2 separate regions of the Homo sapiens genome follow, and region 1 is linked to region 2. The links come from fine-mapping of genetic effects on gene expression. Tissue or cell type: monocytes after R848. Region 2 holds a variant in brackets; the other region holds the start of a gene. All regions are shown on one strand. Distances are between the middles of the regions.

Region 1 (4,231 bases), 130 kb before region 2:
TGCCTGTAAAACATCACCCCCCCAAAAAAAGAGAGAAAGAATTGAAACCTTAAACTCCCTAATTTAAACATAAACTTTGGTGTATTATCATTAAATTTTATGAACTTACAAAATTAAAATTTCCACTTTCAATTCTGCTTTACTCTTTAAAGTTTCTCAGACAAAAAACCTAATGCTTAAGCGTTACAATAAGACTCCTGATAACAAATCACACTAAACACAAAAAAAACCCACTCCATTATCTTATAAACCACCTTGCACACTGATTCTGCAAAAAATAAAAAAATTTGGCTGAGAATATTTAGAATCATTTTTTGATAGTCAAAAGAAAACTAGAAATTCAGTACTACTATAATCAATTTCTGCTCTACAGCTGATATACACAAACACATGTATAAATAAGCACATGCATATTTTTGCAAACCTACCAAAAAAAAAAAAAAAAACCCACACACCAGTTTCTCCAATTCTTTGATTCAAATAAAGCATTTCAGACCTAACTTCCTTACTCTCCCAGGTGTGGGAAACAATTTTAAGGTATAAAAATACTAACCAAAATAAACTAATGTGAGTACTATTTCTAACTAAGCATAATGCGCTCAAAATAATCGTTTAGCTTTATTCTAACACATATCTTAAGACAATCATGATGTACTAATCTGTTGCAATGTGTAATCAGCTATGCTTTGGAGGACAGATTCAGTAAAGTTTAATTTTTGACATATCCAATGTTTTACATATCAGAAGACAGTGTTTTCAAATTCAGCTGTATAACACAACCATCAGGTTAGAAACCTGCTCTCTAGTCCTTTAAGATGTAGAAAGTGTTTTCTGCAGTCATCTGATGGTTAACAATCATTATGAGGTTTCCCTCCTGAAAATTGGGGCCACTTTCATCATAATCCTTAGAACTTCACACACAATGACTGCAGTAACAAAAAGGAACCCACCTACCTAGAACCACCTACATCAGAATGATTATCCAAGTACCCAAAGACCTCAATTCTTACAGAAACAAAAGCACACATATCTTTTACTTGTAAGGCAATTAAGTATACCAAAAATATTAAAAGGGGAAAGGGTAGTACTTTATAACCGACTTGAAAGTTGTAAGTCATTTAGCTATTTACCCAAGTTCTTCACTTAATTTTAATACCTTTACATTAACTTTTCAGTTCCCCCAACACAATAAATAAATAAATAAGCCTCGTAAGTCACCTATCATCTCATCCCATCGATTCCTTCACTCGCAAATAATCAAATAATCGAGTCAGGTCTTTCTGGCTGCAAATGATTCTTTTTTCCTAAATCAGCGAACTCCCTCCAGTCACCTGTCAAAATAAGTCACTAAACCTTGCTGGAGAGCGCTAAAGGAACCAAACCTGGAATTTTAAGGGGATCCGCGGTGCTAGTTTCAGATGTGTTGCACCGAAGGGCCTGTATCGACTTCTGAGGCCTGCGCTCGAGTAGCAGTCCCTCCCTTCCCCCTCCGGCCCCTTCCAATCCCTCCACCCCGGCCTCGGCTGGTACCTGGTAAGGCTGCGAGTCCCCCCTCCGGTCGTGACAGCTGAAAAACAGGAAGAGAAGGCAGCGACATAAGACACGGCGCGGGTGGGGGGCCGGGGAGGAAGAAAACGGGGCCCCCGCCGCCCCTCCCCGCGGGAGACCTACCGAGCGCCCCAGCGCCGAGCCCCGCACGCACACGGCACAAACCCGGAGCCTCCGGAAGGGCCGGAGAGGGCGAAATGCCGCGAAGCCGGGCCCCCGCTCCCCGCCACACTGCGTTCCCGCCCGCCCGCCCGCGCGGCCGCTCCTCCTCCCCAACCCGATCCGGATCAGGGTTAACAACAAAAATGGCGGCCCGGCCAGCTCCAGATAAGGAGGAACAGCCCCCCCGCCGCCGCCCCCCGCCGCCGCCCGGCCCGAAACGAAAAGACAATTTACCCATCACTGAGTCTCTGCTGTTTCCTCGCATACATTACCATCAATGCCCGGCCTGTGAGTGTGTGTCGGGGAGGGGGGAGAGCGGCCGCGAAAGGCGGGCGGGCGCGCAGGCGGCGGCGGCGGCGGGCGGCGGGCAGCCCCGGCACCTGGGCCCGGCGCGCCCTCGGCGACTCTCATCAGCTCCCAGTTACTGGCGCCGGCGCTCCCGGGCCATCTCCCTCCGTCGACACCACGCTCACTCTCAGCCGGGGCAGCGGCGCCAACTACACGGCGGCACCGCGAACCGGGGGGAGGGGGGCAAGACGACGCGTCCGGCTCAGCCCCGCGGAGAGCGACTGCCTCCTCCGCCTTCTCCTCCTCCTGCTCCGCCGCCTCCTCCCCTCCTCCCCCCGCCGCCGCCGCTGCTGCCGCCGCCTGGTCCTTCTTCTCCTCCTCCTCCTCCCGCCGCCGCCGCCGCCGCTGGTGCCGCCGCTGCCGCTCCACCAACTACATCCGGGCAACTCGGACGCTGCCGCCTTCGGGAAACCTCGGCAGTTTCCGCCGGGCCCCTCCTCTCCCACCCTCGGCCTTCCTCCCCGCACCGCGCGGGTCCGGAACACCGCCCTCGGCAAACCTCGGCTGGCTCCGGCCTTTCTCCTCCTCTGAGGCCTGGATCTTCTCTTCGCGACCAGTCTGCCCTTTCCTTCTTTTCCTCACTCGCGAGTCGGCCACCGCCGTTCCCGTTTAGGGATAGTCTCGCTCGGGCGCCTGCTCGAGGCTGATCTCAGGGGCTCCGGGCTGCGCAGGGAGGGAGCCGCCTTCCGGAAGAGGACGGTGGGGCGCGAGGGAAGCCATCGCGGACTAAATAAGGGAGGCTGCAGCGGCTGCGCGTGCGCCCAGAGGCGCAGCGGGAGGGGGTGCTCTCGGGCGAGCTCTCCGGCCGCGGCCCCCGCCCCTGCGCTGTCGGGCGGGGAGGTCGGAAACCCCCTGGCGAGACCACGGGCGGACGCTTCCCGAAGAGCTGCCTGGGCTGCAGCCGCGGAAGCTGCGTTCTGGGGAGCGGGGAGCGTGCTCCGGCGCCTTCGGGCCGCTGCTGGAAGCCGGAACCGAGCCCGGGCCGCTGCCCCTCACCGGACGCCGCGCGCCACCGGCCCTCCGCGGGGCAGGGGCTGCTGCGAGCTCGCCGGGCGCCCTTTAGACGTAAGTCTCACCCTGCGCCCCGAGGCAGGAAGGAGCGCGTGCAGTCCCGGCCAGAAACGGCTAATAGGAAGGGCTGAGGGGTTCTGTGTTCAAGGCAGAAGGCCGTGCGTCAGGGCGGCCCTCAGCGGAGATGCGTGCACGGAGCGGGGAGCGCCGCTCGGGGCAGGGAATGAAAGCGGCGCTTGAGACTGGAAATTTAGGGAGATGAGTTCCTTGGGAACAACGCTGAACCATCTCACTGCCCCACCCTACCCCTTGTTATTTTTTTTTGAGACAGGTCTCGCGCTGTCGTCCAGTCTGAGTGCAGTGACGCGATCACGGCTCACTGCAGCCTCGACCTCCGGGGCTTACGGGTCATCCCACCTCAGCCCTCTAAGTAGCTGGCACCACGGGCATGCACCACCACACCCGGCTAATTTTTTAAAAAAAGTTTTTCCGGAGATAGGGTCTCGCTGTGTTACCCAGGCTGGTCTCGAACCCCTGGCCTGAAGCGATCCTCCCGCCTCGGCCTCCCAAAGTGCTGGGATTACAGGCGTGAGCCACTGCGCTCGGCTTTTCACCCCTTTCTAACGTTTTCCATCCCTTTCTAACGTTTTCCATACCCAGCGGTGCCCTGCCCACCCTCTCTTTATCTCTCACTTTTCCCTCCTCTGTTTCTTCCTCGCTGAAGTCCATTGGTGAAAGAAAATTCATGTGAAAGTTCTCAGGTGTGTTAAGTGAAATTGCTACAAATTTGATTTTATGTACTGCTGCAGGTACATTGAGAGAAGAAACGTGAAGTATACCAAACAACCGTTAGTTGAGAGTGGTGGTATTCGGGTGATTGGTTGACTTTTTTTTTTTTTTTTGCACTATTTGTAAGGCAACATAGTTTAATGAAAAGAATTGTGGTAAACATAATTAGGTGATTAACACAGAAGAGGCAAATAGTAAACAAGTCAGAAGAAACAACCCCCTCCAAAAAATAAAAAGTAACTGATTTACTTGGTATCCAAGAAGTTACGTTATTGCTAGACCTAATAGAATGGAGAGATGGAATGATGTAGGGAGAAAGGCTCTGAAATCACAACTGGTTGGAAAAAAAATTTTAATTACATAATCTTATTTG
Region 2 (4,231 bases):
CTAATTGTTCACGGAAGAAAGTTCTTGAATCTGACAGATGCCCATATTTTAGTTACTCTCATATGGTTAAAAGTAAATCTTTAGCGTCACCATGCCTGGATAAAATATCCCTTAAGAAAATACTATCTCATGTTGCTCTAAGCAACTTTCTCTTTTCTTTTTTTCTTTCTTTCTTTCTCTCTTTCTTTCTTTCTTTCTTTCTTTCTTTCTTTCTTTCTTTCTTTTCTTTTTCTTTCTTCTTCCTTCCTTTTCTTCCTTTCTTGTTCTTTCTTTCTCTTTCTCTCTCTTTCTTTCTTTTCTTTCTCTTTCTTTCCTCTCTCTCTCTCTCCCCCCGCCCCACCCCCCCGCCTTCCTTCTTTTTTTTTTTTCTTCAAGCTCTCACTTTGTCACCCAGGCTGGAGTGCAGTGGCACGATCTTGGCTTACTGCAACCTCTGCCTCTTGGACTAAGGTGATCCTCCCACCTCAGCCTCCACAGTAGCTGGGATCACAGGTGTGAGCCACCACACCTGGCTAATTTTTAAAAAATAATTATTTGTAGAGACAAAGTCTCACTATATCGCCCAGGCTGATCTCAAGCTCCTGGGCTCAAGCAATCCTCCTGCCTCACCTCCCAAAGTGCTGGGATTACAGGTATGAGCCACCACGTCCAGATTTCTAAGCAACTGTTTTTTTTTGTTGTTGTTGTTTGTTTTTTGTTTTAGACAGAGTCTCGCTCTGTAGCCCAGGCTGGAGTGCAGTGGCATGATCTTGGCTCACTGCCACCTCTGCCTCCCAGGTTCAAGAGATTTTCCTACTTCAACCTCCAGAGTAGCTGGGATTACAGGCACACACCACTACGCCTGGTTAATGTTTGTATTTTTAGTTGAGATGGAGTTTCACCATGTGGGCCAGGCTGGTCTCAAACTTCTGGCCTCAAGTGACTGCCCACGTTGGCCTCCCAAGGGATTATAGGTGTGAGCCACCCTGCCCGGCCCTAAGCAACTTTCTAAAAAATAGTTTAGTGTCCTACGTATCCTGATATCCAGAAGAAGTCAGATGAGGCCAGAATCCCAGTGTTTAGAAAATAATTTGTTTCTTTCTCTCTCTCTCTACTGTTTCGGTAAATTCTCTTTCTGTTTTATGTATCTGTGAATTTTGAGTTTGAGTTCACTCTGTAGCATTTCTGGACCTGGAAGGCTAGAGTGGGACCTGAAGCTCGGTGGCCACAAGAACATTCTGTGGTCTCATGGGTCCCTTATGTTTCCATCCCTTGGCATCATCTCACTCAAACTGCAAACTGGAGCATCCAGTGGGGCTGGCTGGAGCACGTGCAGAAGGCAGAAGATCAAGTCCAGAAAATTAATTAAGGCTGGATCAGAACCAAAACCATGAGCCCATAATTTCAAAGCTGGAAAAGAGTCTGAAATGTATTTAATTAAATTAATTAATTAATTTATTTATTTATTTTGAGACGGAGTCTTGCTCTGTTTCCCAGGCTAGAGTGCAGTGGCTTGATCTCAGCTCACTGCAACCTCTGCCTCCCGGGTTCAAGCGATTCTTCGGCCTCAGCCTCCTGAATAGCTGGGATTACAGGCACGCACCACCATGCGCAGCTAATTTTTGTATTTTTAGTATAGACAGGGTTTTGCCCTATTGGCCAGGCTGGTCTCAAACTCCTGACCTCAGGTGATCCGCCCACCTCGGCCTCCCAAACTACTGGGATTACAGGGATGAACCACTGCCCCCGGCCCTGAAATGTATTTTAATATCAAAGTAAAGCAGAAATGGGGCTGGATACTTAGGCATCAACCTTTTTCTTTCGCTTTCTTTTTTTTTTTTCCTCCTAGATACAGGTTCTCATTCTATTGCCAGGCTGGCGTGCAGCTAAGAGCCCTGGTCTTCAAAGAAAGTTTTCCCTTAAGCAGAAACATGGACTCAGCATCTCCTGGTTAGACTATTAGCTGTCTCTTGGGCAGCAGCCCAATCACAGCTCACTGCAGCCTCCCACTCCTGGGATGAAGTGATCCTCCCACTTCAGCCTTGCAAAGCACTGGGATTCCAGGCATGGGCCACTGTGTCAGGCCCATCATTGCCCTTTTAAAGCAGGGGTGCTCATCTGCTAGGACTTACTCTGAGAATGCCAGAAAGCCTGACTTTGCAAAGAAAGGCAAACTTAGTTTACCAACTGCTGTAAGAGTAAGGAGGGCTGAGGAGCCAGCAACCTAGGGTGGAGTAGCTGATTTGGTTTGGCTGCGTCTCCACCTGAATCTCATCTTGAATTGTAGTTCCCATAATCCCCCCGGTGGGAGGTAATTGAATCATGCAGGTGGTTACCCCCGTGCTGTTCTC[G/T]TGATAGTGAGTTCTCAGGAGATCTGATGGTTTGAAAAGGGGCTTTCCTCCCCTTTTCTCTACACTTCTCCTTGCTGCAACCATATGAAGAAAGACGTGTTTGCTTCCCCTTCTGCCATGACTGTAAATTTCCTGAGGCCTCCCCAGCTATGCTGAACTGTGAGTCAATTAAACCTCTTTCCTTTATAAATGACCCAGTCTTGGATATGTCTTTATTAGCAGCGTGAGAATGAACTAATACAGTAGGGAACAGAAAAAGTACCTCTTCCCCTTATTCTAGGAACTTTCCAGTTTCACATCAAGATAAATCTAGCGCTCTTCACCTCTGAATGTGAATTTCTGTTCTCCTGTCATCTTGGGAGGTGTTAGTATTCAGTCTAGGGAAATTAACAAGTTCTGTAAGAATTAGCTCCTCTGCACACCAAAGTTACTCACATAAAAAGCCCTCAGACTCAGGTATTTAACTTTTGTTCACATCAGAGCTGAGGCTGCTGGGAAAAAAGCCCAAATCAAGGCCTTTTTTGTTTATTAAATTTTGATCAAGAGCCCTTTAATTCGGGATATGCGGCTTTCTCTTATGGCACATACTGTTGCACTTGAAGTGGTTAATTGAGAAAGCTCTGAGCTGCTGCAGCCCAGGAGAGAGTTAATAGTCTATCCAGGAGGTGCTTAGTCCTCATGTCTGCTTAAGGGAACCTCTGCTGAAAACTTCCTCTGAAGACCGAGGCTCTTGCCTGGATTCTTAGATCACTCACAGGCAGAAACTACTTGATAATTTGTGGGACCAGGTGAACAATAAAAATATGGTGCCCTTTATTCAAAAACTACTAAGACTTTCAAGATGGTGATAGCAGAGCATTAGCTAAGTTGGGGGCCTCTCCTAAGTGTGGGGCCCTGTGTGCCTGCACAAGTCACACACCCACGAAGCCAATCCTGCCCACAAGTAATCTTCAAATTCTACAGACTCAAACTAAATGCCAGTTTTTCCTTCCTTGAGCATATTTTTTTTTTCTCCTGTACTTATTACATTTAATGGGACACTATCTACCCAGGAAAAAAGCTTGGGATCATCCCAGATTTCTCTCTCCCCTTCACCCTACCATCCAATTAGTGATGATTCCTGTTAATTTCACCTGGAGAACTTCTTTTGTTATTTAACACATTTCTCACCTTAATCCCCATCCTGGTTCTGACTCTCATGATCTGTCAGTGGTATCTGCCTGCCTGAATCCCCCACAATGATCCCTCTAAACCACTCAGCTGACCACATCACTGCCCTGCTTACAAACCTTCCAAGACTCCTTGGAACCTATGAAATAAAACCCAGATGATTTAGCATGGAGCATGACACCCTCTGCAGCCTGGTTCATCCCCACCGCCTCATACCTGATGCTCCCACAACTCTAAGCGACACAGATTCTGGATGCTCTGTACTGAGTCATGCCACTGTGCCCTCTTATGCTTTCCCTCCTGTCAGAAATGCTGTGCCTGTCTCCCTCATGTTACCTCCTGGAAAGGCTGACTGATGGTCCCCCAAAAATCCAGGTCTCAATCTCTGGAATCTGTGAATGTTACCGTATATAGCAAAAGAGACTTTGCAGCTGTGAAGTGCTTGAAATGGGGAGATGATCCTGGATTACCTGGGTGGACACTAAATACAAGCAGAAGTGTTCTTATGAGAGGGAGACAGAACTCAGACTCCACAGAAGAGGAGAAGATGATGTGGAGCTGGAACAGAGGGAGATTTGCAGATGCTGGCCTTGGAGATGGAGGAAGGGGCCATCAGCCAAGGAGTGCAGCTCTAGAAGCTGGAAAAGGCAAGAAATGCATTCTCCCCTAAAGCCTCCAGGGATGCACAGCCTTGCCAACACTTTGGTTTTAGCCAGTGGACCCATTTAGGC

Direction of the effects. Positions count from the first base shown, and alleles are read on the strand shown. Sizes are in standard deviations (SD) of each study's normalised expression.
With allele T in place of G in region 2, the expression in monocytes after R848 of the gene that starts at base 2,447 in region 1 is lower (moderate effect, 0.60 SD a copy in Quach 2016).

Evidence for each region. PIP is the estimated chance that this variant, and not a neighbour inherited with it, causes the effect. A credible set is the group of variants that fine-mapping cannot tell apart.
Region 1: it holds the start of WAC, and the variant in region 2 is the best candidate, but not a certain one, in a credible set for the expression of WAC in monocytes after R848 (Quach 2016, PIP 0.50).

The regions. Positions count from the first base shown.
Region 1 is chr10:28,531,334-28,535,564 of GRCh38, reverse strand. It overlaps WAC (WW domain containing adaptor with coiled-coil), which reads right to left and starts at 2,447. Exons shown (of 14, transcript NM_016628.5): 1 at 1,945-2,447; 2 at 1,531-1,567; 3 at 1-3. The coding sequence starts at 1,985. WAC-AS1 (WAC antisense RNA 1) reads left to right here and starts at 3,211. Exons shown (of 3, transcript NR_033805.1): 1 at 3,211-3,830. RefSeq lists silencers at 1,444-1,693, 1,704-1,813, 1,964-2,043, 2,254-2,403, 2,774-3,193 and enhancers at 2,554-2,743, 2,364-3,047.
Region 2 is chr10:28,401,040-28,405,270 of GRCh38, reverse strand. No RefSeq gene overlaps it. Among named protein-coding and RNA genes, the nearest start is that of LINC02652, 93 kb to the left of the region's middle. The variant G/T (reference allele first, on the strand shown) is at 2,331.